Linked DNA regions of Homo sapiens: regions 2, 3 and 4 are each linked to region 1. The links come from fine-mapping of genetic effects on gene expression. A gene starts in region 1. Each other region holds a variant in brackets. All regions are shown on one strand. Distances are from middle to middle.

Region 1 (8,113 bases):
CCTCACGACTCGGCAGCAAGCAGGCTTGGTTCCACTTCACAGATGAGAAAACCAAGGCTAAGAAAGTATGAGTAATTTGCTCAAGGGTCCCATTATGAGTAAGAGCAGTGCCAATGCCCCATCCCATTTGAGAGCTGCACTTGGAAGTGGCCAAAGTGAAGAGCACACTTGGGTTCACTACCTTCAATGAACTTAGTAACAGATCTCAAGGGTGCAAGAGAGCCTCACCCTGCAAGCTTCTCTCCCATCATCTGTATTAGTTTTCCACTGCTGCCGTAACAAATTCCCACAACCCAGCCAGCTTAAAACCACACAAATGTATTATCTCAGTTCCACAGGCCACACGCCCAGCAGCTCAGGGTCTCAAAATCAAGGTGTTGGCTGGCTGGGCTCTTAGCAGGAGGCCCTGGGGAGGAAATCTGTTTCCAAGCTCATTCAGGGTGTTGGCAGGATCCAATTCTTTGTAACTGCCGATCATTAGCTAGGGGCCTCCCGTAGCTCCCTGAGGCCTCTCTCTGGTCCTTGCAAGTGAGCCCCTACATCTCAGGGCCAGCAACTGTGCTTCCAAACATAGGATCTTCTGACTGCCTGTTTCACAACTTTGACAGCCAAAGTTCTCTGTGCCCACGTGGATGGTCCTGAATAATCTCCCATCTACGAATTCCAAGTAACCTGAATCACATCTGCCAAGTCCCTTTTGCCATGTAACATATTGAATTCACAGAGTCTGGGGATTAGGGCGTGGACCTTTTTGGGGACCATTATTCTGCCTTCAACACCATTGTTGAGATGTGAGTGAGTGAGCACATGGTCCTCACGTGTGATTCTAGAACATACTGCATCTTTTCACCTAATCTTAGGAACAGGATCCATGGCAACATAATTTTATTGACGTCGGGACATAAAACTGCCTACTGGGCTGTGAGAGAAAAGATCATCTGGCCAGTGTGACAGCTGAGTCAAGGTTTATGCCTGTTAATATGCCAGGCCCGTAAACATGACCCACCAACTCAAAACCAAGGGGGAAACGCGGGCTGGTAAATTTCACAGGCAGCCCCCAGTGGAATGAATTGGGAGGAACCAGCATTTCCTGCCTTTGCAGAAGGAACCCCAGATCAGCTGTTTACTCCTTTCCCAATTTTACAAAATAAATATACAACTGAAGTATCTCATTTACAAACAATGCTTCTAACAGATTCCAAGTACTTGCAAACAATAAGCTGTGATTCATGTTTCCAAATGAGATGGAGTTTTATCATTTTCTTACCCCTCGTGATTCGTTCATGGGCCAAGTGGCCAGAGTGGAAGTGTGGTCCACCCACAGAGCCACCAGAGCGCCTCCAGGGAAACACAGCCCTGTTGTTAAGCTCCGAAAAATGCTGGAGTTGGTAAGGATGGTGGAGGGGTCCTCCAGTAATTTTCCCTTAGGTGGAAACAGCCAATCACCTACTGGCAATAAATCCCTACATCCCAGCACCTACATCCTTCCCAGTCAGCATCCTTCGTGAGAACCACTAAAATCCTCCCACTGCACACTTGCAGACAAGTGGGGAGCCTGGGATGGCCCCATTGCGCTCATGCTCAGCTCCCCTCCCACCCTCCCTGATGGGGGACTCTGGTTAAAGTGCCTCTGGATGCCGATGGAGTGGTGCTGTCTCATTACTGTCTACCCAGCAAGCTGTCATCTGCACCCAGTGAGAGGAAGCACAGCAGCCACTCTCTTCTCTACCTTCAGCCCTTCACATCTTTCCTAGCATTTCCTGGCAAAACCATCCCAGATACTTTTCGCCTTTTAAAATTTTCCAACAGTTTTCTATTTTTTCTTTTTTTAACTTTTTTAAATTTATTTTTTCTTAATAATCAAACATGGAGTTTTCTTAAAACCAAAGTATTAGCAAGAGGTGTGATGTTAGAAGTCACCACCATGAGCGCTGGTGAAGCTTCTGGAAGGTGTGAGACTCAAGCGCACCGCCCTGTTCTGGCCCTCAGCCTCCTCCCCAGCAAGGAGACCCCGTTCTCCCATCTACGAACATTCTTTTCAGTCTTCTCCAGACCATCCAGCTACACTATAGGATCCTAACTGACACCATCCAGGTCTCTCTGGGGGCAGACGAAGGGTAACAAGGTCTCTTAAAATGTGGCGTCCCAAAGAGAAGCCCTCCCCATCTGCAGGCAAGCACAGGACACTGTGGCAGCTGAACCCAGGGCGGCCACACTTCACACCCAGGAGGCACCACTTACTGGTGATGTGACCTCAGGCAAGCAATCCACCTCTTCCTTGCCTCTGTAGAATGGGAGCAGTGATGGCCCCCACTGCACCCCGATGGCCCCCACTACACCCCCAATGGCCACTACTGCACCCTGGCCATGGGCACCTAAGTTGCTTCCTCAGCAGGGCCAGGGCTATGGGATGCCTGCTCCTCTGCCAGCCTCCTGCCTCTCCTGCCTATCCACCTCTTCCTCTCTCTCTGCGTGTGCTGGTGCTAGGTTCCCTGGGAGTCAGTCCTCAGCTCTCTCCTCTACACACTACCCCCGCAGGGACCCCCACTGTCGCCACAACCCAAGCATTCTCAGGTGGAATATCCACCCCGAACCTCTCGCCTCTGATGCAGACTGAAGGCCCGTGCCAAGTGCCCCAGACTGAATCCATTAGGTGGTGCACAGGGTGCAGGTTACACACTGAGTCTGCAGTCAGATGAGCTCTCCTGCACTTTTGTGAATGTGTCTGGGCCTCAGTTTCCTCATCTGCAAAATGGGGAGATGGGGAGGAAGCTCAGTCATAATGGTCCTGAAGCAAGGAGGCCCCCTATGCCTCCCAGCATGTGGAACAAGCTAAGTGCAGGCCCGGTAGGACCCAGGGCTGTCCCAGGACTGTCCCCGTGACCACTGTCCAGCTGGCTCCGTGGTCAGGGCATACTGTAAGTCATTGACAGCAGAGAGAAGCAACTGTTCACAGAAAGGAGAGCGCTCCGGGGACAAGGGCTGCCAGGGCGCTTCCCAAAAGTCAGAGAGCCAGGATTCGAACCACACCAGCAGAGGGTCGGGCAGGTCCAGCACGGGCCAGGCACAGAATGGGCGCGGGGCTGCTGCTGAGACGGTGCCCTTGGAGGACACAGCCTGGGCTGTGGGAGGCGAGACCACCAAAGGTCTTCCCAGTCGGGTCGAGTGGCCTGGATGAGGCAGGCGGTCAAGGATGTCTGTGGATGGTGGGACGGGGAATAGCAAGCCCGAAAACCAACTGGGAAGATCCCGGACCCGGGAGAGCAGGAGAGTAGCCACGGCCCAGTCCCGACACCAGGCGCGCAGATCACGAAGAGGTGGGCGTCCGCAGGCCTCGGCGACCGGCTGCGGGTCCCCGGGGCGCAAGGATGCGGGTCCCACGCGGACGGGCCCGTCTATTCAGCCGCAAGGGAAAGCCTCCCTCTCAGGAATGCGCACTCGGGTCCGAAATGTAAACTTGCAACCCGACTCCTTCCATCCCCCCTCGGAAGCGACAAAGAGCCGCGGAGCAAAAACAGGCCCCCGCTCTCCCGGAAGGGTCTCCAGGCCTGGGGCCACTGGGGCGCTCGGCCGCTCGCCTTCTCTCCAAGGTCCCACACGGTCCCCAGCGAGACCGCCGAGGGGCAAGGGGCGCTGGCCACCCAGGTCGCGCCCCCTCCTCCCCGCCGGGAAAGGGCGGAATTATCCGCTGGGACCGCGCCGACCTGAGCCCGCCCACCCAGAGCCCGGACGCGGGACGCAAGTTCATCCAAGAAGCAGAAGCCGCCGCGAGACAGTGACCCCTGGGCTTCCCTGACGGGCCCAGCCGCGCAGATAGCAGCGGCCGGGGCCGGGGAGTTGGGGGTAGCCCGGGGGGCTCCACGGCAGAGGTCCAGAGGAGCGGGCGTCGGAGGGGACACCCTAGGGAGGGACGCGCCCGCCCCCATTCCCACCCCACCCCCTCGTGTTCCCGACCCGCATCCCCGGGGCTGGAGCTGACGCCGCCGGGGGCGCGGGGCGGCCGGGGTCGCCGGGCATTGCGAGCGGGGCGGCGGCGCGGGCGCGGGCGGAAGCGCCTCTCCCCGGCCCGGCGGCCGCTCGGGGCGGCGGCAACAGGCGCCCGGCACACCCGCCCCGCCGGAGCCTGGGCTTGGGGCGAGAGGCGCGGCGGCGGCGGCGCTGCTCACCCACGCCGTACTTCTCCTCGCGCTTGGTGGGCACCCAGCGCGTCATGGCGCCGCCGGAGCCGCCGCGGGTCGGGCAGGAAACTCCGCGTCTAGGCCGCCATTTTCCATTCCTTTCGAGCCGCGACAGGATGGGGAGGAAAAAGTTTGCGGCGGAGGCGGCGTCATGTGGGACGGGGCGGGCGGAGCGTCGCGGGCCGGATGGGAAAGGCCGGGAGCGCCGGCGGGAGGCGGGACGGCCGCGGGCTCTGCGCCCGCCCTCGGCGCGGACCCTGGGCCCCGACCCCGCGGTCGCCGGGGCTCCCCTTCCTCTGTCCCAGTGCGCCCAGCCCCGCGCTCCGCACCCGGGCACCCCCGCGGGGTTCTCCTGAGTTCCTGGAGCTCCCGGGGCTGGCGCTCACGCCGTGAGAGGGGTGCGCCCTTAGGGGGGCGGGACGGACGGGGGGTTTCTACGGGAGGTAGGAAACGGGCGGCTTGCAAGGCGCGGGCTTAGGCCGGAGCCTGGTGGTGCGAGGTCCCCAGCTCGGATTTCTCCCTGGTGGAGAGTCCCGGAGCAGAACAAACCAGCAGAGGCTCTGGAAAGGGTCCTCCTGAGCACGTGGCTCATTCATTCATTCGACAAACGTTACCTGAGCGCCTGCCCACTCATTGCCCGAGTGTGCTGGGAGCGCCGCACCAACTGCCTGGTAGGTGGGAGAAGGGACACGTCAGGTAACAAACAGCACAGGTAAGTGCCGGCCACTCAAATGGGGTGGAAAGAGGTGGCACAGCGCTGCCGAGGGAGTGCGTTCCAGACAGGTGACCTCTTGCTTGGGTGCTGAATGAGTGGAGTTTTCCAGAGAGACCAAGAGGAAGCAGCCGCAGAAACCTCAGCCCAGCTGGGCTTGCAGAAGCTAATGCTAGAATAGTTGTGGGACTCAGGATCTGCTGAAGTCGGGGGAAGAGAGAAGTAGGGAAAGGAAAGCCCAGGCCACGCGTGGGGCTCAGGAACGGCATCCTCGCCCGAGGTGGGAGTTCTTCTCAGGCCCTGGTGTTTCCCATGACAGTAAAAGGTGGGGGCTTCAGATTTCTCCAAGGGAAAAGTTAAAGCAACACACACCTATTTATTTTTACTGTAATTTCAGAAAAGAGAGGTTAAAACCAAGACATGGACAAAGCCTCCGAATGAAGGCAGCCCTTTAAATGGAATAAATTTGGTTTCATGGCACATTAATGGGGTGTCTTCTCTCCGAAGACACAGAGACAACTACAGTAGGTCTGGGGGCCGTCAGGGATTGGAGGAACGAAGGTAAGAAAAGGAAGAAGGTAAGAAAAAGAGGTCCCTACCTCTGTGAGGTAGGGACAGTGCTGAACAGCAGGGCTGGGAGAGCCCACAGGGAGGTGGCCAGGATGGCCACAGGGCCTGGGGAGGACCAGGTGGGGCACCATCCTGCGGTAGAGAATGCCCGTCACCTGCCCTAGGGGCCACCCAGAATGCAGATTAAATAAGTATTTGGGAATGGCACAGGAGCTTTTCCATTTTCGTGGGTTAGAGGAAAGCTGCTGCGTTCAAGAGGATAACGTGGGACCTGAGCATTCTGGTAAGTCAACCCCACATTCATGGAAAGCCACGGGCTCTGTTTTACTGATAAGGAACTGAAGTCCCACAGAGGAAGTGGCCAGGCTCACTCACACACAGCATGCACTTGAAGCTTTCTGTGGAAATCAGAAACCTCCGGGGCTCAGGCGCTGTAGTGGTGGCCTGGTGACTCTGACCCCTTGAAGGAGAAGCATCTGTGAAGGTGCTGTCCAGGACAAGTAGGGTGCTCTACGGTAAAGGACATGGTGGCCTGACCTGCTCCAGAGCAGGGAGGCCTCCCTTGAGGAAATAAGATAAACCCAGACTTTAAGGATAAGCAGAAACCAGCTAGGTGAACTGGAGTGGGAACAGCACGTGAAAAGGCCCTGGTTTAGGAAGGAGCACCACTCCTTCAGAGCACAGAAAGGCCAGGATGGCCGAAGCATAGGGAACAACAGGAAAGTGACATAAATTGAGGCTGCAGAGGTAGAAGAAGGGCCTTATTGGTCGTGCTAGGAATTTGGAATTCTGCAAAGAAGCCTGGGAAACAGATTTTGGTGACACTCGCCTTCTCTTTAATGTGCAGTTTCAGTTCTGTTGGTGTGATTCTGCATTGGAGATGGCGTGCTGTAACGAATGGCCAGGAGCTTAAGAGTCATGCAGACTTGGGAGGCCTGGCCTTGCCACGCCCAGCTGCATGGCCATCCTCCTCCTGTTTCTGGCCGTTCTGTTTCTAAACCTTGGGGTTCTGATATTCCTACATGTAAACTAGGGGCTGTAATAGGAATCTCACAGGTGAGTCTTAGGATTATAAGAGGAGACATGACTGCATGTGTAAGACATCATAATGATGTGCTTCCTCATCTGACCCTACCTCCAGGTTCTTTGATAACCTCATGGTTCCCATTTTCTAGAACAGTTGCCACTTGCACTCAGATAAAGGTGACTCACTGAATGCATAAATAAGTGTAGTGCCGGATTTGCATACTTTTGGTAGACTGTCATATAATAAATTTATAAATCAGAATTTTAAAACTCCAGGTGGGGCCGGGCACAGTGGCCCATGCTTGTAATCCCAGCCAGCATTTTGGGAGGCTGAGGCAGGCAGATCACTTGAGGTCAGGAGCTCGAGGTCAGCCTGGCCAACCAGGGTTTTAGTAGAAACCCTGTCTGTACTAAAAATACAAAAATTAGCTGGGCGTGGGTGCGCATACCTGTAGTCCCAGCTACTCAGGAGGCTGAGGCAGGAGAATTGTTTGAACCCAGGAGGTGGAGATTGCAGTGAAGCAAGATCGCACCGCTGCACTCCTGCCTGGGTGACAGAGTGAGACTCCATCTCAAAAACAAACAAAACAAAACTCCAGGTGGACCACGGGCCAGGTGGTTGTAGCTTCAGTCCCTTGATTGCAACATGTGCCCAAGTTTGGCTGAGATGTACCTGTAGCCACGGTCCTTGAAGCCCTGAGAAGATTTGTCAGCATCCCCACGGTGCTCCAGCAGTGCTCTCATCTTGTGGCTCTAAATCGAGTCCATGGCCCTCTCTCACTGTCCTATGGTTGCATAAGCTCAGAACTGGCTTCGTCTCCAATTCCAGGAGCCCTGGAGGTTGTGGCCTGTTGACATTTTTACCTCCTGAGTCAATGTGGCTGGGCCACAGGTCTCAGTTGCCCTCCCAGGCATCTTGCAGGACTTGGATCTGTGCCAAGCTTGTGGGTGTGAACAAGCCCAAGAATGCTGAGGCTCTCAGTTGCTCAGTGCTGCCCATCACTGGGATTTCAGAGTAGTGACCCCCCTCCTCCAAGATACAACAGAATCTTGCTTTGGGGCCATGAAGAACACAATCAATATTACAGTTTTAAATCTTGAAAAGTACAGTTTTAATTTTTTTAATTCCAAAAAATTTCACACATGTGCACTGCAAATTCAGGAGGTAAATTCAGCAAAATCTTGCCTGGTGGAGGTACCAGAAGGCACAGTGAGTCAATGGGGCATGTTTCTCAGTCGGTGGGGAGAGATGAGAATGGAACAGGGATGTGGAGATTTTATGCAGGAAAAGGGGCCTGACCACAGATTTTTTGCCCTTTGAAAGGAGAGGAACAAGGCCTATGCCCACTGCCTCTTGGATTCAGTGGGAGATCTGGGCATCATACTGGATGACCAGGCATGTAGTCACAATGCACAATGCCACCCAGCCCAAAAGTGTATATTCAAGACTTTAGACCCAACTTCGTGCTTACAGGAAATAGAGGAGGTTGAGGAACAAGTGACACCATAAGAAATACAGTGAAACAGGCCAGGCACCGTGGCTCATGCCTGTAACTCTGAGCACTTTGGGAGGCCGAGATGGGCAGATCACCTGAGGTCAGGAGTTCAAGACTAGTCTGGCCAACGT
Region 2 (8,113 bases), 330 kb before region 1:
GAAATTGAAGCTTCCCTAAATGGGTCCTTCTAGAATGGGTCATGAGAAATGGAGGGGATAAGGCTAAAATGACAAGAAGATTCAAAACCATGAAGAGCACTGCCAAGTGCAACACTCAACCAACATTCAATGAGTGTGCAGTGTGTTGACATCATTGAGTTCCCAAGAGTAGGTCAGCAGGAGATAAAAACAGCCCCTGACCAGAATGACCTCAGTGGGAGGCTGGGTCACGTCTTTCTTCTAGGCTAGTGGGGCCATGTCAAAAGGACACAGGAGGTGGTGTGGGGAGGCTCCCCTGGCCACGTGTGGGATGCTTGAGACAATCTGAATATCAAAATGAACGATGACAACAAACAAATGTAGCAAATTGAATGAGAAAAAAATCCATGTGTCTACACAGACATATAGGCGACGTGGCAGGGTTGAGGGCAAAAGTAAAGCTGTGACCTACGGAAGACTATGAGCCAAAAAAACACGGAATGAAGAAGAGAACTTGATAACTGAAGGTTTCAACTCCTAAAGGAATGGTTGGTCCAGAGGAGGCTCCTCAATGGGCACTGAAACCTCGAGGTAAAAGGTCTTTGGGGACGAAGACACTCACTCAATCTGAAAACAACACCCTATAGATTCTTCCTAATTATAGTATGGGCCTTTAGGTAGAATGCTAAGCACACAGGATCACTTAAGTAGTTACTTTTTTTGCCAAAAATGTTCCATCATGAGGAAATGAATAGACAGATTCAGAGTATACAGCATTTGACAAGACAAATGGTGGGGACCCTTAAGGTCAAAGGGAAAACCTCACAGGGAAGAGATCTTACATTCTATTCGGGAATCATTGTTCATTTTCATAGGCATCATAATATTCCTGTGCCTACAGAGCAGTTATTCATAGGAGTTGCATGAAGCGAGGAATGATGTGTCCCTGTGTCTGTGACCAACTTTTTGGTATGTCAGAAAAGAAAGTTTACACATGCAGGGATAATGCAGACATGGCAAAATGTTAATATGTAGTGAATTTAGGTGGGTACGTGTGTTTAACACTAATACTGATTCAACATTTTTGTACATATGAAACATCTCAAAAAGCCAAAGGAAAACAGCTTCTACTCACAATCTAGTGAGAAGACTTATATGACAACAATTAATTAAGACACAATGTTACAAATATTATAAAAGGGAGTTATTACAGACTGCCAGGGAATTCTAAAAAGGAGGTATTTCTTTTCCAATCAAAGGAACTATTACTGAATACAATAATAGAACTACAACCAATGATTTAGGTATTTTAACTTGGGCAAAAGGGAGTAGTACAGAGATTTAAGCAGCAGGAATAATCACTCAGAAAAGTATCTGAGGAGCTAAAATATAACTAGAGGGCTTTGTTGCTTTTGCACATAAAGCTCCACCATATGCATGCTTCTTAAGTACGGGAATGGCTTATTTATTTGGACTGTCCACTGTAGAGGTGTATTCAGGTCTTAACAAAATACAGTGGAAGTTGTAAGAAAGAGTACAAATATCTTGCTTCCCTGCCAAATATGGATCCCAACATCACCCTCGCTCTTTTCATTAGTTTATAATACTCTTTGTCTTTTTTTTTTTTTTTCCTGAGATGGAGTTTTGCTCTTGTTACCCAGGGTGGAGTGCAATGGTGTGGTCTCGGCCCACTGCAACCTCTGCCTCCCGAGTTCAAGTGCTTCTCCTGCCTCAGCCTCCCAAGTAGCTGGGATTACAGGCACCCGTCACCATACCCGGCTAATTTTTCATATTTTTAGTAGAGACAGGGTTTCCCCATGTTGGCCAGGCTGGTCTCAAACTCCAGACCTCAGGTGATCTGCCCGCCTCGGCCTCCCAAAGTGCTGGGATTACAGGCGAGAGTCACCGCGCCCGGCCAATATTTTTTGGTCTTAAGGCAAAAGTTATATAGATAAATGATACAAAATTAGTTTAGGAGTCAAGAGTAAAGGTTTCAAAGGCAGACAATTTGGAATAATCACTTGACCAAGGGTACGTTTGCTGTATAAATTTTAACAGGCTATTTAACCTTTCTGAGCCTCGTTTTCCTCATCTGTAAAACTCGGATCATGATTCTAAAATCTGGAATTCTTGAAAAGTTTAATTAGATATGTATTTAAGGATATTTGCACAGTGGCTGGCTACATAAATGAATGGTGGTGATGATGATGGTGATGAAGAATAAAACACAAAACCATATACAGAAGAATATTTTAAAGTCACAAAATTGTATACTGAAACACACAAAACATTGACACGGGAGTCAAATAAGACCTAAAAATTGGAGGAATATACCATATTCATGGAATGGAAGACTCAATATGGTTAAGACTTATTATAAAACTACAGATATCAAGACAGTGTGGTACTGGAAAGGACAGACAGACAAATAAAACAAACTGGCTGCACACATAGGGTTAACTGATTTCAAAAAAAAAAAAAAAAAAAAAAAAACCCGTGTCAAGAAGGATCAATGTGCAAACTGTACTTTCAACAAATGGTGCCGAAACAGTTGGATACCCAAATACCAAGGAAGGAAGGGAAGGAAGGAGGATGGGAGGGAGGGAAGTAGGGAGGGAGCAAAGGAGGGAGGGAAGGAGAGAGGGAAGGAGGGGAGGGGAGAGGGGGAGGGAGGGAGAAAGAAAGGAGCCATACCTTAAACCGTATACAAAAATTGACTCAAAATGTATCATAGATTTAAATGCAAAACTTAAAACAACAAAACTTTTTAAAGAAAACATAGAAAACTTTTGTGACCTAGGCATAGGAATATATTTCTTAGGATACAAAAAGCATGAAACATAAAATTTTAAAATTGATAAATTGAACTTAAATCAAAATTAAAAATTTTTGGTCTTTGAATGACACTATACAGAAAGTAAAAAGACAGACTGCAGAACTGGAGAAAATATTTTTAAAAACACCTATCTGACAAAGGGTTTCCATCCGCAGTATATGACAAACTCTCAAAAACCAATAAGAAGAAAATAACCCACCAAAAATTGGCAAAAAATGTGAGCAGATATTTAATCAAAAAAGGAACACAAATGGCCAAGATGCACATGAAAGCATGGTCTATCTTACTAGTCAATAGGAACACGCAAGTTAAAACCACACTGAAATATAACTATATACCTATTAGAATGGCTAAAATTAAAAAAAAAAACAACCACCACAAAGATGCAGAACAATGGAAACTCATGTTGCTGGTCTGAAGGCAAAATGGTAAAGCCATTTTAGGAAATAGTTTGGCAGCTTCATATACAGCTGATAATATACTCACCTCATGACCCAACCACGCTGCTTCTAAGAATTCACCCAAGAGAAATGAAAAGATATGCCCACACAGAGACTTCTATACAAGTATTTATAGAGCTTTCTTCATAATTGCCACACATAGGGGACACTCCAAACACCTACTACCTACTAAATAAACAAATAAATTATGGCATATCTGCATGATGAATAGTACTCAGCAAGAATGAGGAACAAACTACTGGTAAATAAACATGAGTGAATCTCCAACACATCATGCTAAGCAAAATAAGCCAGATACAGAAGGCTAGACACTGTATGAATCCATTTTTAATGTCGTTCTAGAAAAGGCAGTACTAGAGTGACAAAGAAGAGAGAACTGACTATGGAGGGGCATGAGAAATATTTTTACGGAAATGGAAATATTCTAAATCTTGTATTTGGTAGTGGCTACACAACTGTATTGTCTGTCAAAATTTAGAAGGAAGAAGAATGGATGTTACTATATAAAATATAAAGTATATCATTTATAATGTATAAAATATACGTATTTTATACTTTATAAAGTATACAAAGTATATAATGTTTAAAGTATACATATATAAAGTATTCTATACATACAAAGTATATAAAGTATACTTTATATAGATTTATGTATAAGTATATATGCTTTATACAGTATATATACTTATATGTATTTATTATATATGTATAAAATGTACATATATTATTTACTTTTTATGTATAAAATCCATATACTTTATATGTATAAAATATAAAGTATATATTTTATATATTTTAAAATAAAGAAGAAAATCTGAAAATCACCATGTCCTATAAGCCATATGTAATTAATGTTGTATTTGAAAGGATTCCTTCTTGCTCTTACACTTATATAGAAACAGAGTACTTTCAATTTAATTAATACTTTATTGTAGCTTTCAAATGGTTTTGCTATTCAGTATTGCAAGGCCTACTTCACATTACCCTTGTTTTTCACATTTTTCTTGAGTATTCCTGCCAATTTATTCTTTTGCATGTACTTTAGAAACACATTATTGAGTCTGAAACAAGGTCCTATTGGGATTCAAATTGGA[A/G]TTCCATTGAATTTTTAAATTAATTGAAGAGGCTTACAATATCAGCCTTCCCACTTAGACATGCAAACTGTCTCTCCATTTGTTCAAGTCTATTTTTATGCCATTTCAGGAATGTTTTGTGGTTTTCATCATACGGATCTTTAACAGCTCCTTTTATTTTTGTGTCTTTTGGAGGGAGTGCTTTTTTAAATAACCCTTTGAACATTTTGTGTATTTTTATTTGTATATTAGGGTAAACTATTGAATTTGATGTGTACATTTTGCAATTGAACCTACAGAATTCTCCTATTACTTCCAAACTATTTTTCCCCCACTTTGGAGAGGGTTTCTAAATACATCAAGCCAACATCTGTCAATATTTTTGTGTTGTCTTTTCTAATCACTGTAGGTCTTAATTCTGCTTCTAGACTTACTCCTCAGGCCGCACTATCACGGTAATGTCAAATTATAATAATGACAGCAAGCGCCTGTTTTCTTAAGTGATTTTAATGGGCACGCTTTTAGTGTCTAATTTTTAACTATTATTTTGAATGTTGGTTTAATATACTGTATGTATCATGTCAAGGAAGTATTCCTAACCTCAGGATCAGCTATAACAAAGTGCCTCAAGTTATGGTTATGGATATTATTGGTTAACAAACATGGTATGGAAATTATTATAAAACAAGAGTTCTATTATTGAAGAACAAGTAGATCAACAATAAAATGGAGCAGCCGAAATCACATCGTATGGATGCTGTTACATTTTTACTAAGAAGGGAAGAATGGTACCTTCAAAACACAACTTATATGTAAGGTCAAACTATAATAAAATTAAACTTAGAAGATCAACATTTTTTATAATTCTTATTTCCTAGAAAGGGAATGTAGCCACAGTATTTATCCGTTCGCTGAAACCTTTGCGAAGGCACACTGTGTTTTGGACATTGTTCTAGAAGCCCGCATATAACTCACATTCTATTGGGAGTGCTCTGACAGAGAACTTACTGGCAGCTGAATTTAAACATTAGCTTCACTTGTCAGAGTTGACATTAATTAGTATCTTAATAAGACCATCTGGTACCTGGAGTAAGTTAATAGTTATGCACTTGGCAAGTATACATTGTAGATGTTTCACATCACATTTTGTGGGGGAAAAAAATCTCTTGAATGTCTGCTCATTGAGAAAAATAATCAAGGGGATATCAATGTAAATATATAGCTTTGTTTGTAGCTATATATTTGTTTGTTGTAGCATGTCCACTGTTATGTAGACAAAATTCATATTTCCAACTTCTAAGTTATGTTTATACGGACATAATGAAAATATGAGAAGAGGCCATTTCATCAATCTTATCAAAATTTAGAGCTTGCACTTCCTAATTACCAAATAAACACTTAGCATTGATCATACTGGTGACTACCATAATTCTAATTAGGGAATACAAAACATTGGTTTATAGAGATTAATCTCCTTGAACAAAATTCAAATATTTTAATGATATTTTTTCACTTATGACAATCAGGGACATTTCAGTTATTTGCCTCATACATAAAATTAAAAAGGGACCATGCCAAATCAAATCAAATCCCCTTAACCTAAACCAAAAACTCTAATCACCAGTCACATGGTGAAGAGCCAAATTGAAAGTCACTTTGCAACAGATGTTTAGTCAAGATTTTTTATTTTTTATTAATCTTGCTTAGATGAGATCTTAACAGCATGCAGTGGGAGGTAAATCCGCAAAGTAGTACTATAATGACTAATTTTACTTTCCAGAATCACAACTTGTTTGTAAAACTGAGTATGTTTTTCACAAGCTAATTATCTGGCTACACAGTTAAAAGTTGTCAAATGCAATGCTCCTATTTCCTGTTTAAATAAGAAGCACATGAGATCATGAAATGAAGTCCACTTGTTTTGAATTTCAACCCACTGTGTTGGTGTCATGAAGGGGCAAAAAGCAGAAATCTAGGTTGATTGGTTAAATGGAAACAGGGTCAACAGGAGGCATTTGTTCGAAAGAATCAGAAACCTCAGACACTACTACGTGGTAAATATGGTAGGAATATCACCATTATTTAGTATAAAATCATTATCACAAATAAAAACAATAACTGCAGTACGAATGTGGACCAAGGCGCAGACCTATAAGGCCATGATGAGTGCCCCAGCCCCACATCACCTCCCGGACTCTGCCTCTGTTGCTCACATTGCTCCAGCCACAGTATCCAGCAAGGGATCCTGGAATTTGCTGTATGGAAAACAAGAGACTTTGTACAGCACCCTCTCTAAATATACAAGACATTCAAAAGAGAAACCTGCATACATTTTGATATTAGGAAATCATTCCGGGGATTCTTCCACTCCTGAAATGAGTTGACTTGCAGATAACTCACAACTTCTTAAGCTAAATGGTATTTTCATTTTTCTCAAGCTCTTCCAATACATATGACCACCAAGATGCAGAACTAAAAGGTCTGCACCCTTCAGGATTGTACTCTACCTGTACCCTCTACGGAACGCTTCTCTGCCAGCTGACCACCTGGCTCACTTCCTTCCCTCCTTTTCTGCCTTCTCCATGCACCAATCAGGTTGACACAAATTGCATAAATTGTTTATGTCTCTCCTCACTAGAATATGAACTCCATGTGTGCAGGGACCTTGGTTTTGCTTGTTGAAGGACCCCTAGCAGACAGCCTTTACCTAGGTGACACACGAACTGTCTCTCCATTTGTTCAAGTCTGTCTGAAAAAATGGAGTTTATTTGAACAAATGAAGATGTCTGAGCGAATGCACTCAGTCTTCTATTTGTTTGAAAGAACATTAAAAGGCAAAGAAAAGAAGAAAGCCTAACACAAACAAGAAGGAAGGGAAAACATTTATTCCAACAAAAGCCTTGAGTCTAAATAAGGGGACAATGATTCTATCAATTAATGAGTGAATGTGCTTCTGACAAAGTTATAGATGTCATTTCTAGTATTTTTAAAGATCCCCAAGCCTCTAGCTAAATGGCACTCTTCCAAAGAAATGTGTTTAGCCAGGCATGGTGGTGTGTGCCTGAAGTCCCAGCTGCTGGGGAGGCTGAGGAAGAAGAATTGCTTGAGCCTAGGAAGTGGAGGCTGCAGTGATCCATGATTGTGCCACTGCACTCCAACCTGGGCAACAGAGAGAGACCTCACCTCAAAATAAAAAAAAAAGAATAAGAAAAAGAAATTCATGCACTGAATATTCTTTTTTACAATACACTTAAAATATACATTGTAAGACACTGACTACACCAACATTTTCTTGTATCGAATAGTACTGAATTCGTATTTTCAAAATAACTTTGTGGTGGGGCTTGTGGAGAGGGCATTTAAATGTTAAAAAAAAAAAAAAGCCTTGGATTCAGTCTACCCATTCGCTAAAGAGAGTTTGATCTCCATGTGATCATTTTCAAAGCAAACTTTAACCCTGCTCTGATAGAAAAGAATTACCAGATGAGTCTTAAAACAAAAATTTCTGGTTGTTTAATGAAAGTTGCATTAATAAAAGTAATCAAACGTGTGATAAAATATGCTTCAAAAAATAAAAGACTTAGGAATAATTAAACCAAGAAAGAGAGAGATCTGTACACTGAAAACTATAAAACATTGATGAAACTGAAGATGATAAAAATAAATGGAAGATACCTTATGTTCATGGATTAGAAGAATTAACATTGCTATAATATCCATATTACCCAAAGTTATCTACAGATCCAACGCAAGTCCTATTCAAA
Region 3 (8,113 bases), 510 kb before region 1:
TGTCTGCCCACTGATGTCACTGTCCTTGCACTGATGGAGGGACAGCCTTGGGGAGATTGTGATGCACTGGTGTGGCCAGCCACGTGCACCCTGCTGAGAGGGCCCCTTGTCCGGTGTCCTGGACAGCAGGCATAGCCATGCTGTCCTGACCCCACAACTTACTTTGCCAGGCCCTACGACATTTCATCCCGGGCACACAGCTTCAACAAATGCACACTCCAGGGCAGTATTCCACCAGGACTGACTGTTACCTCCCTGTTACTAATCTCATTTGCACTGAGAAAGAATCCCTTCCTATTTTTATTGAAGAAGGTTAGCTGCTGCTCCCACAGATATCCCACGGGGGTTGGTCCCAGGTGGCACGAGGAGGGCATCAGGGTTTGGTAGCAGGACGTGAGTCCTGCCATTCTGGGATTATTTGCCTTCCTGCCCTCTTAGTCTGTTCAAAATGGCCAAAGCAGCCCGAGGAGAAGCTGCATCCTCACGAAAGGTCAGGGCTCCCCTCTCCACCTCCCTAAGCTCCTGCATCCGGCAGCTGTTGGCTGGCAGGCCCCGATTACAAAGGGCTCATGGGCAGAGGGTGATTAAGAGGATCACGGCCTGTTTAGGTGGAGGGCCTGCTCTTCTGTTGTCTCTCACATGTACAATGCCTCACTAGCTACAAAGGGACCCAGCAAAGGGAGTGCATTTTTACCACCTGACACATAACTCCCACAGCCTTCTATCTGTCAGGCACTGCCTGGCTGCTAGGGGCACAGAAAGGGAACTCCAGAGCAGAAAGTGACCCCAGGAGGGGTAGGTGAAGAGCCCTGGGTGCTTTGAGTATAAAGCAGTGGCTCTGACTGCGGGCAACCTCTCAGAGAGTGGCCCATAGCTGCCCATAGCTCATGCTGGTGTGGGCAAAGGAGAAGGCTCGGCGCTGGACACGCAGCTGGGCAGAGAGATGCCGGCCCCTAGAGACAAATAATCAGGTGTTTCGGGGGGACTCATTGAAAACTAAATGGCAAGTGCCACCCCCTCAGTGAGTTCTTGCCAGGTGAAAACAAAAGGCACTGAGACACATGAACAAAAACGTACAGATTTCAATCAGATGTTTTTATATTGCCAGTTGCCTTGGCCCTGACATTTCAATACTGTCAATAAATCTGCAGCCCAACTCTGGTTCATGTAAATGAAACTGTCCAATAGCTCACTGCAAATGTGAGTTTCACGTAAATGAAACTGCCCCATCTCAAAGCAAAGTTTAGCTTTGTTGAGAGCTGGAAATCGTTATTTCTTTAAAAAGGGTCAGGGAGGGGTATGTTCTCAGGCTATTTTTACTTGAAATGGGCAAGGACTATTAATTAATAGTTGTTTGTCATGTAAATGGCAATAAAACCATCAGGAAAAAAATCTTTAAAAAAGTTTATGTAGACTGGAATTTGTCTTCAACTTTTCACTTGGTTAACACAAAGCATTGTCAAAACAGCACAGCTATGACTGAATTTAAATACATTGTAAGAAGAAATGAAATCTTCATTCTGGTTTTTTGATAAGCTAGAGTTGGTCGTGATTACACAGCATTTCCACTAAAATATGGCTAGGCGAGGAGATATCGATGCTCTCAAGAACAGGTGGGGTGGTTATGGGAACTGTAGAGTCTGCTGTGTGCACGCTGCCACAGTGACCACGGGGCATGAGCAGGTGAAGAAGGCGTGGCAGACTGTATTGAGGAAGGGAACGGACAATTCCTTCTGGGGTGGGGCCATCCTTACCATGAAAACAGACTTGACCTCAAACCACCTTAAAATTCCAGGTAATTTATATGCAGTTGTATATATGGTTCTCTCGATCCACATATTCTGCAAAGGAAACACACACACACAACACGGGTTAGAAGGATGTCAGCAGGTGGACAGCTCTGCCCTAAGGGGGATTTATAGAATAACTCCAAAGGAGTCAGGTCCTTCAGCAGGACAGGGTCTGTGGTGCTCAGCACAGGGCATGTGTGCCTTCAGGTAGCACCTCACAAGCCACGCTCTACCTAACGGTCGCTCAGGATACATCAAAGTATCCCCTGTCCCCTAGCCAACATTGCCCACCACTCTGGTATTTGACAATGAAAGTATACTAGGTGAGTGAGAAAGATGTGTATACTCCAAAATGAGGTATGGGGAGCCCCTCTTGAGCAAACAGATTTTGAGGAAGGCTCCAAAGAAGTCTTACATTAGCTACAGTGTTCATAAGAAACTAAAAGGGGCAAATACATCTTTGGGAGACTGGATTTAATCAAAGTGACCTCTGATGTTCTGATAAAACCAGTCGGTATTTTAAACTTTAAAATGTTTTGACGTAACTAATATATGTTTATATGAGAACATAAAGATATGGAAAGAGCAGGAGGAAAAACCATCCCCTACCTGAAGCTGATAACCTATATGCTTTAGTATCTATTGTTCAAGACTTCTTACTAAGTATTAAAAAGTGTGTCTATGCATATTTTAAATAAAAACATCATTTGACAATGTGTTCTTTGTAAAACAGTATATTACCTATTGCAGGAAACTGTTCTAACCCAATAAATACAATTCTACTACTCTTTAAGGATTGCACAAAAACTCCAATGCAGGGGTCAACTGGAAATCCTTTATCCTACTGCCTCGTTCGTACTGTCTAGCTTGCAACAATCTTCTGCCATTCCAACCTCCCTGCACTGCAGGGTCACTGAGCAGTCTGAGTGTCAACAGGAATCTAGACTTAAGCAGATGGGATAATGGAATGCCAGTCATTCCAGAAAACTGGGACAAGCGTGGGGGGCTCACGTCTGTAATCCCAGCACTTTGGGAGGCCAGGGCGGGCAGATTGCCTGAGCTCAGGACTTCGAGACCAGGCCGGGCAACGTGGCAAAATCCCGTCTCTACTAAAAATACAAAAATTAGCCAGATGTGGTGGCATGTGCCTATAGTCTCAGCTACTCAGGAGGCTGAGGCATGAGAATCGCTTGAACTCGGGAGGCGGAGGTTGCAGGGAGCTGACATTACACCACTGCACTTCAGCCTAGGCAACAGAGCAAGACTCTCTCTCAAAAAAAAAAAATTTTCAGAAAACTGACTTGGATCTTGGAAAGCATTTATCCCAAACTTCTTACGTTCCATAGGAGGAAAGGGAAGGAGCTGGCTGAAGCCATAAGGACACAGGCAAGGCCTCCGTGTCCCACACCAGTCCTCTTTGCCCCATGGGGACGGCTCCCTCAGGTTTTTGTCCTGGCAATGGAAACAGGTCTGGCCCTCTCACATCCACCTCTAGACCAGATTCCAGTGCTTTCTCTCATGTCAACATGCCCTGAGACGGACCTCTGGGTTCCATCCTGGGCTTTACGGCCAGCTCCTCCTCACGCAGGCCCTGTCTCATCTTCCTCCTCGTCAGTGCCCTCACTCCCCAGCACATCAGTCACCCCTTGCCAGGTCTGCAGGGATGAGCCACCTCGCACTGCTCTCGGCCTGGTGGGCAGCTTCCCCAGCCCCCTGCACTTGGAGCCAGGCTCCCCGCTGGAGGGGCCGAGGCTGGCTTCCCAGTAGAGCAAAAGACGTTGCACTTATCTAAGGCTTTGTGGGGCATGTGAAGGACCAAATCCTGCAGCTTCCGAACACTTTGTCCAAGTGCCCGGACCTCAACAGGGCCATTAGGGGATTTCAGGGCCATTTAGAAGAAGCATAGCCTCTGAGGCTCAGCATAGCTCAAAATGTCAAGAGCCTTCGTTATTCTTAGCTCTGCACCCAACTGGCCGCGCACCCTCCAGTGGCTCACTTGACCTCCTTGTGTCTATTTCTTTATAGTCTAAGAATATATCTACTTGCCAGATGGGAGAGGTGTGAGGGAAATTCAAGAACTGCCTATAAATCCCACAGTTGAGGGACTCCATATAAACACTAGCGTTAGTGCTTATGATGACAGTAACAGGTGCAGTCTGCTCTGAAAGCCACTGCCCTTAGCGAGGGTGTCCAGGTTGGACGTGCCTAGGTTCTGCCCGCACTGTTGCAGACAATGGACACTGTAGTGACCAGTCCTGGAGGAGGTCCAGGGTGCTGGGTTCACCAACAAATAGGGTGAACATAATCTTCAAACAACCAGCCTGCTGGGACTGCACAATACTGCAGATTTCACCAACTCCAAGCTC[C/G]TTTGTGCTCCTTGGTGACACACAAGGAATCTGGCCTCGGGGCTGGAAGGAACTTCCCCATGGCTCTTAAGAGCTGAGCTAGGAGACTCACAGGTACTGCCCTGAGGATCCCATGACTGGCAGACCCCTGAGGGATTGGGAGGGAGACTGGGTAGCCACCACTCTTTACTTGAGGCAACCCTGCTGGAAGGGTTCCGAGCTTTGCTCTGGTCAGGAGTAGGGTGTTAATTCACCTTTGACCTTTGCAGCCTAGATGCCTTCGGACGGCACACAAGAGAAGCCATTCTCAGCAGAGCCGGTCCTCCTTGGGGGTCCCCGGGCTAATGCCTCCTTGCAATACAGGAGTACAGAAGGATTTCCGGAGGTTTCCCAGGCAAGACGGATAAACATTAACATTTTAAAAAAATTATGGCTTATTTGATGCCTTTTCAACATGGATCCACTCACTTGAGCCCAGGAGTTCAAGACCAGCCTGAGCAACATAGACCCCACCTCTATATAAAAAAATAAATAAAATAAAAATACAAATGAATCCATGAAAGCAGTTTGTATGTAGAATTTTTAAAAGGCTCTAGGGCCAGGCGCGGTGGCTCACGCCTGTAATCCCAGCACTTTGGGAGGCTGAGGCGGGGGGATCACGAGGTCAGGAGATCGAGACCATTCTGGCTAACACCGTGAAACCCCGTCTCTACTAAAAATACAAAAAATTAGCCGGGCGTAGTGGCGGGCACCTGTAGTCCCAGCTACTTGGGAGGGTGAGGCAGGAGAATGGCGTGAACCTGGGAGGCGGAGCTTGCAGTGAGCTGAGATCATGGCACTGCATTCCAGCTTGGGCGACAGAGCGAGGCTCTGTCTCAAAAAAAATAAACAAATAAAAATAAAAAAATAAAGAAAAAAGGCTCTAAAGATGTTTGCTGTTATTTCTACAACTCGAATGCCGTGGTTTGCAACAAGGGGCAGATGTTTTATTTTGCAATGTCTGGAAACTTTATTTTTTTGATGGAGTTTCACTCTCGTTCCCCAGGCTGGAGTGCAATGGAGCGATCTTGGCTCACTGCAACCTCTGCCTCCTGGGTTCAAGCGATTCTCCCGCCTCAGCCTCCCAAATAGCTGGGATTACAGGCGTGCACCACCACGCCCGGCTAATGTTGTACTTTTAGTAGAGACAGTGTTTTACCATGTTGGTCAGGCTGGTCTCGAACTCCTGAACTAATTTGATCTACCTGCCTCAGCCTCCCAAAGTGTTGGGATTACAGGTGTGAGCCACCATGCCTGGCCTGGAAATCTTTTTGATTGGTTGTCCCAACTGGGGTGGTGGCACTGGCACCTAGTAGGCAGTGTTCAGGGATGCTGCCAAACATCCCTGGATGCACTGGATGGTCCCCACCACAGAGAATAACCCGGTCCGTATTGCTAGTAGTGCTGGGGTCAACCCTGCAGTTGTGTGTTGTGCTCCACTGAAGTTCAGGTGCTGGATACTGAATGAGGAATGAGCACCCGGGTCCAGATCCAGTTCATGTGCTGACTGCTGTGTCACCTGCAGAAAGCCACGTCAGCACCCCGCACCTCAGCACTCGGTGGGTCCATTTTTAACTAGAGATGACAGGCACCTGCTCTCTCACCTGGGGCTCGCAGGGAAGGCAGTGCGCTACTCATATGGGAGCTCCGGCATTTGGACGGCACAGTCTCCTTATTAAATATCTCAGTGACCTTAGTCATATTGTTAGTGAAATGGCAATTAGTTTTTCTAACTTTGGAGGGGGTAATAGATTAAGATTTCTGCACATAATACACAAAGACATTTAATATGGCTCCGTGGCTGCCTCTGAGGCCACGCTTCTCCAGTGGCAGTTCTACTGGTGGCGGAATGATATTTTTTGTTGTTTGGTTTGGTGGTTTGTTTGTTTTTTACCGCAAATTCATTGTCTGGGTTTTTCTCTCCCTTCCGGATTGGCCGAGAATATTCAAATCGCTGGACCTCGTTCACCCTGTAAAAACTGTACAGAGACAGACAGATCATTAGATATTTAACCCGGCAAATAGCCAATTTGCTTTTGGACACGGGGTCTGGCCTTAGAACATGTCACTGCCTCCTGTAAAATGTCCCTAACCTTGACCTGAAGCCATCGCCTTGGTGTCCTCTCCCAGCCAGGGAAATGTTGGCAGGTGGAAAAATTAACTTGAGTTTTTGCCTCTTCCCTGTCCCTGCCAACCCTCGAGGGAAAACAGAAGCTGAGTAAGAGTGAAATGAGCAAAAACAGAGGAAAGGTGAAGCGAAGGAGAGAGAAAAAAGCTTTTGTGTTCAACGTATGTGTTTATTATTATTTTAAAAAAGTATTACATACCTTAGTTTCAGATCTACAAAGCACAGATTTTGCAACCACCCCAAGAGTGACACACAGGAAACATAAGTAACCTGCCTCCGCGGTCGGGGTACGAGGCAGGCTTTCCGCATGCACAGGGCAGGGCGTGGAGAGACTGAGACTGATTTCTCCCCTGCACTGAAATGCAGGCAGGCTTCCACAGCAAAAGAAACTACTGCATCTGAGAAGGCTCTAAGCGTCACTATTTGCTTAAGGCCTCTGAAAAAAAATGTTGCAACCCTTAAAATGTATGCCTTGCGAGAGCAATCATTTGTAAATAAACAGGGTCCCAGTTTATTTCCCATTATTGCTGATGCAAGGTCAAAGAAACGATGAAAGGTTAAAGAAACCACCAAACTTCAGGAAGCAAAATGAAGCTGATCCTAAGGAATATGAGGTCATCAAAGAGATTAATATTTTCACCAGAACATGGATCAAACAGAACAGAAAAGTCTTAATATCAAACACATCTGCTAAAGCAGGTCTTTCTATGCCATTGCTAAGTCAGGTGCGATACAACTGACAGGCAGAAAATCTCACTCAAATATGGACAGTTGACTCAGGAGGTTTAAAAGCCCCCTCATAACCCTACATTATGGAATTGCTGTGCTGTAAGGCTGAAGGGTTCTCCTGTGTGTCACCAGGAGCAAATGTGCAAATCCCATTTCCCGCCTTCTAAAATGCAAACATTCAGGCCACACTCACATGTATGAACTTGGCTTTGCTGGGAACAGGCAGGACTTGTGCACTGCTGTGAAGTTCCCTAGGGGATTGTACCCCACAGGGCAGGTCTATAAAGGAGACCAGACGGCCTCCACTGCCCTCTTAGGTTTTTGCTGTCAGCTGACTTTGGGAAAGGAATAGGCTTTGCACGCTCCCAGCACATGGATTAACATCTCCTGTCACTTTTTTTGGATGCTGAAAATAATTAGCTTCCCTTGCTCTTCAAAGAGGACAGAAAGAGCATTTGGAAAGCGAATCCATGGCCAAAGTCCGTCCTTTAAAAGGTGGAATTATTAGCAAGAGATCTGTACACAGCCTCTTACAACCCTCACGTTGGGTAAGAAAAATGGGATTATTACCTTACAATCTGCTCTGACACTGGCCTGTGAAACTTAGGAGGCAGATCGAGTTTGGGCTTCACTGTGAAGCACTGAATATCTGAGGTGAGGGGGTTAAGGATCACTAAGGCAGCATAGACATCAACCATGAGAGAGGCCCCCCACCACACCCAACCACCCAAATGAATGGCATCACCATGGTTTCAGAGTTGATGAGGTTGTCTTAAAGGATACACTGGCCAGGAGAGTTTTTAATATCGTCGCCTGGTGGAGATGTTGTCTTCATTTTCTCGGCGTTTGGAAACTGAGTTAAGAGCCGAGCCTCAAAATCTTCCCGGCGCTCATACTCTTTCCCTCGGTAAATGAAAACTTTTCCCTGAAAAGGGTGACATTCATTTCATAACACCACAGAGAAAGGGCCAGGAAGAGTTCACATGCAATATGCTGGCCTTAAAATATGCCTTACGGGTTCTTACAAAATGTCATTAAATTTAAGAACAACTTGTAATTTTTATTTTTTTTTGTACTTGCGT
Region 4 (8,113 bases), 550 kb before region 1:
CCCACAGAGACACTCATGACTGGAGAGGATAAGTGGCTTGCTTGGGGGTCTCTAGATTCTTGGATTCTACTCCAGGTATCCCTAAAGTCACCTGTTTCTGCCAAATACCACTTTATGAGAGGAGGTTTGCTATGGTCTGTCCTTTGTCAGAGCGTGTGTGTGTGTGTGTGTATACAGAGAGATTTAAGGAATTGGCTCAGCCATTGTAGGGGCTGGCAAGTCCAAAATTTGTAGGGCAAGCCAGCAGGCTAGGAAGTCAGGCAGGAGCTGATGCTGCGGTCTTGAGGCAGAATTCCTTCCTCTCCAGGAAACTCTAGTTTTTGTTCTTAAGGCCTCTTCAACGCATGGGATGAGGCTGACCCACATTATCAAGGGTCACCTCCTTTATGTAAGGTCAACTGATGATAGATGTTAACCACATCTACAAAATACGTTCACAGCAACACTTACAGTTGCTTTGATTAACTGGCTACTGCCGTCCAGCCAGGTGGACACTTAAGACCACATCAGAACTCTTTTGTCCGGGGCTGAAACTAACCCAGGAGGTTTGCCACACATCAGACATCCAGGGAGTCCTCACTCCCCTCTCCAGCTAGTGACACTGCACTCAGGCCACTGTACAACCTGGAGGAGCAGAGGTTTCCTCGTGTGTGGGAGACAAATAGGGCAGAACAACTCTAGCTTGTTTGGGTACAAAGGCTTATTGGCCTACAGGTTCCCTATTTTTTTGAGCCATCATCAATGAAACAGTAGATGTTTAAATAATTCTGAAAAGGCAGATTGCCAAAAAGTGTGGTGGCAGAAGTTCCCAAACAGACTTTAAAAAGTTAAGTAAAATATTAAAAAGTAATTAGAGATGGAACTAAAAAGCAAAAATGAAAATCCATTAAACCAACAAAGAGTTCTGTGGACATGAAACAAAGTCCAATAACATAAAAGAATCCAGAGCAGAAGATAATGAAATCTGTAAGAAATTTAAACGATCAAATCTTTGCATGAAAGAATAATCTTAAAATTGATTAAAAAATAATTTCTTTAAATACTAGGAAGCAATCTTCAAGCACCAAGGGTGGTTTTCAAGTAAGAAAAAGACTTTTCCATTTATAAAATACAGTTTATATACTAACTACTTTGAATAAAGATTTGATGAAAGTGCATATGAAACTAGGTAGTTAAAGTAAAGATGGATTTTTAATAGTCCAGAAAGCTTTTGGAAGGCAGGAGAATAAAACGAAAATTTAACTGAACGTGTGAGGGCAAAATTTGGCTTTGAGCATCCTGGAAACCAGAGCAAAAGTAGAGCCTAAGAAGCTCACAATTCCTGCTTTGGAGCATGAGTCTGCAAAAAGGCAGTATCACCCCCTGAAAACTGGTACTTGGGAAACAAACAAACAAAAAATCTTATTTTTTTAATGTAAAAAAGCATAGGTATACATAAAGTACATAATAGATATGCAGTATATAGTCTAAGTGATACACAGTATGGCTGTACTATTAAAATTTCATCATAAGAGTGATGGAGGGAAAAAAATGTCTAAAAAGGCTCCTTGAAAGGTAATTGTGAAAACAAAAAAAAAGGTTAAGAAATAGTGTTTCTGTGTAGAAGGGATATGTCCCCGCATGTACAGAGGCAAACCTTCCCCTGGATCCACATTCCAGAAGGAATGCATGTAGCAGGCACTGTGCGCAGAGGCCGGTTTGTCTCTGATTATTGTGTTGCAGCCCATCCACGGATTTACAAGCTGAGGAAATGTTGCATCTGCATGAAACGTTTGAGAAGTTTACTCACTGGTGAATATATTAGCATATTTGTAATTCATATTAATAAATAGGAAATGTCTGCAACCTTTTGGCTGTCTTCACTTTTCTTTAACTCTGTTCTGTGTTCTCTGCAAACCTCCCAGCTCTAGAGATCCCCGACGGATATAAGGTCCTTGGGGGGTTGTGGGGCGGGGATTCCAGCCAGGGTTGTGCAGCGCGAGGATTAACCCGGTAGATGGGGGAAGAGCAGGAGCCCACACGTCATTCCACAAGAAAACCATCATTTATCACAGGGCCAGGCACTATTCTTTCTGTGTTTTTATTTTTTTATAAATACAATTATATTTTATATCATTTTATAAATTTTATAATTTTTATTTTTTATAAATACAATTATATTTATAAAAATAAATACTTTTATTTTATTTTTATAGATGGAGATAGAGACGGAGACAGATTTCTCGCTCTTGTCGCCCAGGCTGGAGTGCAATGGTGCAATCTCAGCTACTGCAACCTCTGCCTCCCAGGTTCAAACAATTCTCCTGCCTCAGCCTACCGGATGGCAGGCGCTTGCCACCATGCCCGGCCAATTTTTGTATTTTTAGTAGAGATGGGGTTTCACCGTGTTGGCCAGGCTGGTCTTGAACTCCTGACCTCAGCTGATCCGCCCGCCTCAGCCTCCCAAAGTGCTGGGATTACAGGTGTGAGCCACTGCGCCCGGCCTATTCTTTCCGTTTCTGGTGGCCGCTTATACAATGTGAGGCACAGACTGCCCAAAAACAACCTGTCCCCAGGCTGGGCTCTCCGTGGTCGCCTACATGGGTGTGCCCATTCGATGATTTCTAGGGTTGTGGATAATATTCAGTTTCTCACACACTCGACAGAAGATGAATATTTATCTTGGTGCAACAGTTGAAACAGTAAAGATTCTTGAAGAAAAAAATCCCACATTCACACAGGCCTACAGTTTCTCAGGGGTGGACTGGATATTTACAAGCATGAATACGCTGGGGACAGCACCTGAGTAGGAGGAAGAGCCTCCCAGCTTCCTGGGCTCCACAGCAGCCTCCTTCTAGGCCGGGTTAGATGGGCAGAGGGCACATCCTTATGGCTTCCACACGTCTGGCAGGAGCAGAGGTGAGAGCCCCGTCCATTGAGAAGAGAACCCCCTGCCTTCCTTGTTTCTTGCCACCCCAGATCCAGCCAGATAGGCCCTGGAGAAAGCTCTCCATGTCCAGACCTCTACAGCTAAATCACACACCCATTAACCAAAGCCCTTTCTTAAATTAGCAGCTGAAAAGAGGCCCACATGATCTGCAGCCCCACAGCCCTCTGGCTTTGGTGATGGGGAAGCACTCAGCTGGTCTCTGCTTAGCTCCTGTCTATCAGGACATGCAGCCATGCACGGGACACGGGCACTTCCCATCTGGGCTCCAGATCAGACA[C/T]AATTAACAGAGAGGATTAAAAACAATGTTGGAGGAAGAGGTGCATATATAAATGTGTGTCACCAAGCACTTTAACATAGCAGAACAGAAACAGCAGCGTCTGTATTTTACAATCAAGGATGAAAACATAATTGGTCAGACACTGTGAGTCTTTTAAAATAACATTTTATTTTTCGTTGTCAATGATTAACTTTTAAGTCTATTAGAAGAGTATCATGATTATAGTGAATAAAAAAATATAGATGAGAGAATACAAATATTAGGTTATACAAAGTTAGTTTTTTAAAAATCATTGTCCACCAAAATTTTCAGGACTTTGGAGTTCTCAAAAAAAAAATGTGTGTGTGTGTGTGTGTGTGTTTTAACACTTCCAGCAGTTAAAAATTAAGAACACATATGGATAATCATTGGTGGACGCCTATTATAATAAACGGAAGGACCACAAAAATTAAAACAAGTTCTAAGAACCATCATATATACAAATTTCTGTACAGAATGAGGACAAAAACAATTCACCCAATTAAAACCAGCTCTTGTGGTACACATACTCTTTTTCAGAAAAGAACGAACACTTATCTTCCTGTATTCATTTGTTTTTCCATTTGATTCAGTATTCTTAATGCTGTTTCCACCCCATAAATTAGTAACTGTTCAATAGCTGAGAAATATCCTATTTTCAATTATGCAGGGGAAATCAGGAGCTTCCCTGGAGGGGTTGAACTTCATGGTCTGATGTAGGTTGGAGACACACCTCAACCAACGAAGTCACACCACCGGCTGGAACAAGGAGGGGCTGGATACAACATCCCATGACAGTGAGGAGGATTCTTATACATCATCACTACACAGCTTCCTAAGAGTGATGGCCTAGCCTCTCCTACTTGGCTGAGCTCAGAGCAATTGAGCTCTTTGCAAATGCAAGTCATTTGGCACAAAAAGAAAGAATGTTTGGGCAAGACTCAGACTCTCTCAGAGCCAGACACACTCAGAGGCCCCCAACTCTGATAACTACGATAGCACATCCCGGACCCATATCTACCTCCCAGACCCACCTTGCTCCATGACGCTAAAGGCCACTCACTCCATGGTGAGAACTGAACTCCTTTGAAGAAAAAGCAGTCGCACGAAATGTTAACATCACAGGCCCAATGAGGTAAACAGCAGACTCAGGGGACACAGAAGGAGAGGGCATGGAGATGGGGAGGGGCAGCACACTCTTTCCAGAGAGGCTTGCGACGTCACTGCACGATCCCGGAGTCCACCGATGCCTGCTTGCGAGTTGTCTTTGGAGGGGGAGGAGGCGGAGTTTTGCTGGGCAGTGGAGGTGGCAGATGCTAAAAAACATGAGGATGGGGAAGATGTCACATAACTGATGTCCTGACAGAAAAGACACCGTCTCCAGGTGGGGTCTGACCTGGCACAGCCACTCAGCCGGAACCATCCTCCCCACATGAGTTGGGCTCCATCCTGTCCGACTTGGGGCTGGCAGGTCTACTAGGCTCAAGACTGGGCTGCTATGGGCCTGGGCCTTTCTGACGCCTCTGAGCACTCTCCCACCGTCTGCACAGCCCCTGAGAGGTACCATTGCCCTTTGCGTGGCCTTTTTAAATCTAGATGCTATCGACCAAGTTATCCATCTATTGTCTAAGGGATAAATAAGTCCTTAGAGGCACTCTCCAGGGGTGAGATGAGAGACCTTCTTTTGCTTTCTGAGCTTCGGGCAAAGGTTAGCAAGCTTCTCCTGGAAAGGGCTAGACAGTACATATTTCCAGCTTTTTGGCAGGCCACACGGTCTCTGTTGCAGCCACTCAATGCCACTGGTGTGGCCGAAAAGCGGTCATTGACAGTGTGTACAGAAAGGGGTGTGGCTGTGTTCCAAGAAAACTATTCACAGAAACAGGTGGCTGGCTGGCTGGCTTCAGCTCATGGGCATATATTACTTTAGATTCCAAAAAAGAACATTAATTTCCAATGTGAAGATAATAGCAAACCCCTTGCTGATGGACCTGGCTGGAGTGTTATGACTGAGGGCAGCTGCACCCTATTGCTTTTGGGACCCTCATGCCCATCACACACACCTGATGTGCAGGAGACTCTCTAGAAATATGGGTCAATCGAATAGAAAAATGGATGAATGAGTGAATAAATGAATGAGTGAATAAACGAGTCAGTGGATAAATGAAGAAATGAACAGGTAAGTAAACAAATGAATGAAGAAGTGAACAGACCAGGGTAAGTGGGAGCATGCCACAGGCAGAAGAACCAGAATGAAATCACAGAACACTATCGTCTAACTTAAGGGTAAGAGTGGATTTTTATCAGCCTCTCAGTGTGGGTTTGCATTTAGCTGAATGTGAGAAAAGAGGTTTTCAAGGATAGACAGTGACGCAGTAGTCTCTCACTCATCGCCCAGATTTCCTCCTGATTCACAGACTAGTAAATACAAAAATGACCTAATGCTTAACACAGAGAGGAGAATAAATGTGGAAAAGTAAAGCTGATATAAAGATGTCCTATGAGTGTATGACCTTATATTAAGGAAGGTAAAACAACAATTAAGTCTTTTTAAGGTTGGTTAGAACCGTTAAAAGAGACATCTATTTTGAGGTCTGATGAAACTGTTTGTTTACATGTGAAAGCCACACTCACTGATAGGCCAATGAGGAGCAGGTAAGGACCACACTAACACAGCCTGATACCAACACAGCGCTGCAAATGACCTCTATGCCAAGTATGAGCATGTCAAAAGTTTATCACCATTAAGCAAAATGATTAATGGTGATAAACTCAGTAAGCTCAGATTACTGACAGGAAGAGCCATTTGGAAAGAAATGACAGCTTAGTGGCAACAACTAAAGACAGAGTTGCCTACAAGCCTGAGGCTGATCAATGAGAGTGACAGGAGGATATTGATCACACCCCCATCATGGCAGATGGATGATCATTATCCTAGAACAGCTCTCAGGGCCTGTGCAAAGGGAGGCACCCCAGGAAATGCAACCGCTTCTGCCTAATGATGACATACTAACCACCAGCGTGTCACCTGAGCATGCACTCAGGCTGCAAGTAAATTAAACAAGAAACAAAGACCAAAGACACCTGGGTCATTAATCTAATTGAATTCACACGCCCTTTATCAATTGAGAGAGAGCTAATCCATGTTATCCCTTACTTAATCAACTGTATGTGGCATCAGTAACCCACAATGGTGTATCCAAGAAATTGAGACAATAAAATGTTACCCCGGAGTTGATTTGTAACAAGAAGAGGAATTGGCTGTAATTCTAAGTTTAGAATTTTCAGTTTACTAGTGTAGGGAGACTAGGGGGAACATTCCTGCCTTTGCAATAAAATAGAGAGAAGAGAATGTGACCAATTAACGAAGCTGTTAGGGAAACAATACTCCAAGCAACCCAATATTCTTGTTAGACCCCCCCGAATCTCCTTTTACTCTCACAAGTAGTTAGAAATGGCCGGGGAAGGTCCGGCTTCCATTTCTGTGGTGCAACAAACCATTCCAGCCTGCCAGAAAGCCCTCTTCACAGGGGAACCTGGTGCCTCCTCCAGGACCGGTTCCCCATCGAGGCGTCTCTAGGGAGAGGGAGCCTGTTTAAATGGCACTTGGGTCTCAGAAGAGCAATCTGCCTCTTTGATATTAAAGATGACTGCTTGTTTAGTTTTCTGATACAAAGGGAATGATGAAATACGTATGCTGTACACAAACACCCTCTCTCTTCCACTCCTCTCATAAGGGATGTAATGACCTTGTGGAACACTCCGTCAACGAGTCTCCATTAAAAAAAAAGAAAAAGAAATGGCACGTGGGATTTATATTGTTTATTAAAGAAAAATAAAAAAAAAAACCATGTCTCACCATTATGAAAAAAACAGAGCCACCCAACAATCTCATGTTTTCAATGTTCTACAGGAGTTTTGCGGCCATATAATTACTTCACTAAGGCTGGATAGCAAAAAAAATACGGCCAGCTGTCCACATATGAAGAGGGATATTTTACCCTTCAGACACCACTGATTTAATTGTCAAAGGCTGTGAATAACATGGCCTGGGGAGGCCTGAGCCTAGAAGCAGAAGTTCCCGCCGTGGCTGAGTCAATCGCTCGCCCGCCTCCATCCCACTCATGCTGCCCTCCACACATGCCTGGGCCCGACATGAGGATGGGGCTGGGACCCGCAGGGATGAGTGACGCCTGACAGCATCCTTGAGAACCAGGAGAGGAACGGGGTGGATCTCAAAAGAATGTTTCTAGAACTGTCAACTGGTAACTGAGGTGCTTGTTTAAATGGCTTTTCATGACTTTGACTAATATTTGTACGGGCAGGCAGGCCCAGGGGCTGTTTGGCACAAGGCACTTTGGGTGGCATGAATGACTAAAACAGCTGCTGGGGGGTACCAGCTTCAGGGACTCACGCTGAAGAGGGGTTCCAGCAGGTTGCTTAGGCTTACAAAGGCCAGTGCTGCTGGAGGAAGCCAGGTCAGCACCCCCGAACTAGCACTGGGGAGGGTGCCCAGGGGTGGGGGCACAGTGAGGATGACTGTGCCCAGGAGCCAAACCTGGCTGTCCTCTGCAGTCTCCGTAAGGTGAGTGCCTGTCACCACCCAGGAGCTCCCAGCACCAGGTGAGGCTGCCTGGAGGGATGTTTGGAGACAAGCTTCTCCAGGGCCAAGCAGGTGTACAACAGGTGCCTGCCATACAGGGCGATATTGGCCAACCTCTTTAAAAAGTCAGACCTCTTGATAGAAAAGCTACTTCTCAAAAATCAAAATGTCATTAGAATTGCATCTCCAGTGGAATGATCTCCATGGTGATGATAACCGATGACAACCTTGGAATGTCTATCCTCTTCCTCGTTCTGAGGCATGATATCAAAATGTGCTTTTTGATGCA

Which allele goes with the higher level. Alleles are on the strand shown, and positions count from the first base shown. SD is a standard deviation of normalised expression in the study named. Not every link is listed here.
With allele C in place of G in region 3, the expression in testis of the gene that starts at base 4,302 in region 1 is lower (moderate effect, 0.42 SD a copy in GTEx).
For the expression in sigmoid colon of the gene that starts at base 4,302 in region 1, C is the high allele of the variant in region 4 and T is the other (moderate effect, 0.41 SD a copy in GTEx).

What was found. PIP is the estimated chance that this variant, and not a neighbour inherited with it, causes the effect.
Region 2: its variant is the best candidate, but not a certain one, in a credible set for the expression of DOCK1 in lung (TOPMed, PIP 0.71).
Region 3: its variant is the best candidate, but not a certain one, in a credible set for the expression of DOCK1 in testis (GTEx, PIP 0.79).
Region 4: its variant is the best candidate, but not a certain one, in a credible set for the expression of DOCK1 in sigmoid colon (GTEx, PIP 0.80).

Annotation. Positions count from the first base shown.
Region 1 is chr10:126,901,617-126,909,729 of GRCh38, reverse strand. It overlaps DOCK1 (dedicator of cytokinesis 1), which reads right to left and starts at 4,302. Exons shown (of 52, transcript NM_001290223.2): 1 at 4,167-4,302. The coding sequence starts at 4,212. LOC105378550 (a long non-coding RNA gene) reads left to right here and starts at 4,352. Exons shown (of 2, transcript XR_946449.3): 1 at 4,352-5,170; 2 at 5,288-8,113. It overlaps LOC124900289 (a long non-coding RNA gene), which reads right to left and starts at 3,999. Exons shown (of 2, transcript XR_007062336.1): 1 at 1-3,999. RefSeq lists an enhancer at 2,533-3,281.
Region 2 is chr10:127,230,860-127,238,972 of GRCh38, reverse strand. All of the region lies in intron 27 of DOCK1 (dedicator of cytokinesis 1), which reads right to left. Among named protein-coding and RNA genes, the nearest start is that of INSYN2A, 38 kb to the right of the region's middle. The variant A/G (reference allele first, on the strand shown) is at 4,371.
Region 3 is chr10:127,408,880-127,416,992 of GRCh38, reverse strand. It overlaps DOCK1 (dedicator of cytokinesis 1), which reads right to left. Exons shown (of 52, transcript NM_001290223.2): 41 at 7,815-7,956; 42 at 7,602-7,680; 43 at 6,069-6,153; 44 at 1,755-1,841. Among named protein-coding and RNA genes, the nearest start is that of NPS, 140 kb to the left of the region's middle. The variant C/G (reference allele first, on the strand shown) is at 4,157.
Region 4 is chr10:127,447,759-127,455,871 of GRCh38, reverse strand. It overlaps DOCK1 (dedicator of cytokinesis 1), which reads right to left. Exons shown (of 52, transcript NM_001290223.2): 52 at 3,356-4,540. The coding sequence ends at 4,445. Among named protein-coding and RNA genes, the nearest start is that of NPS, 97 kb to the left of the region's middle. The variant C/T (reference allele first, on the strand shown) is at 3,207.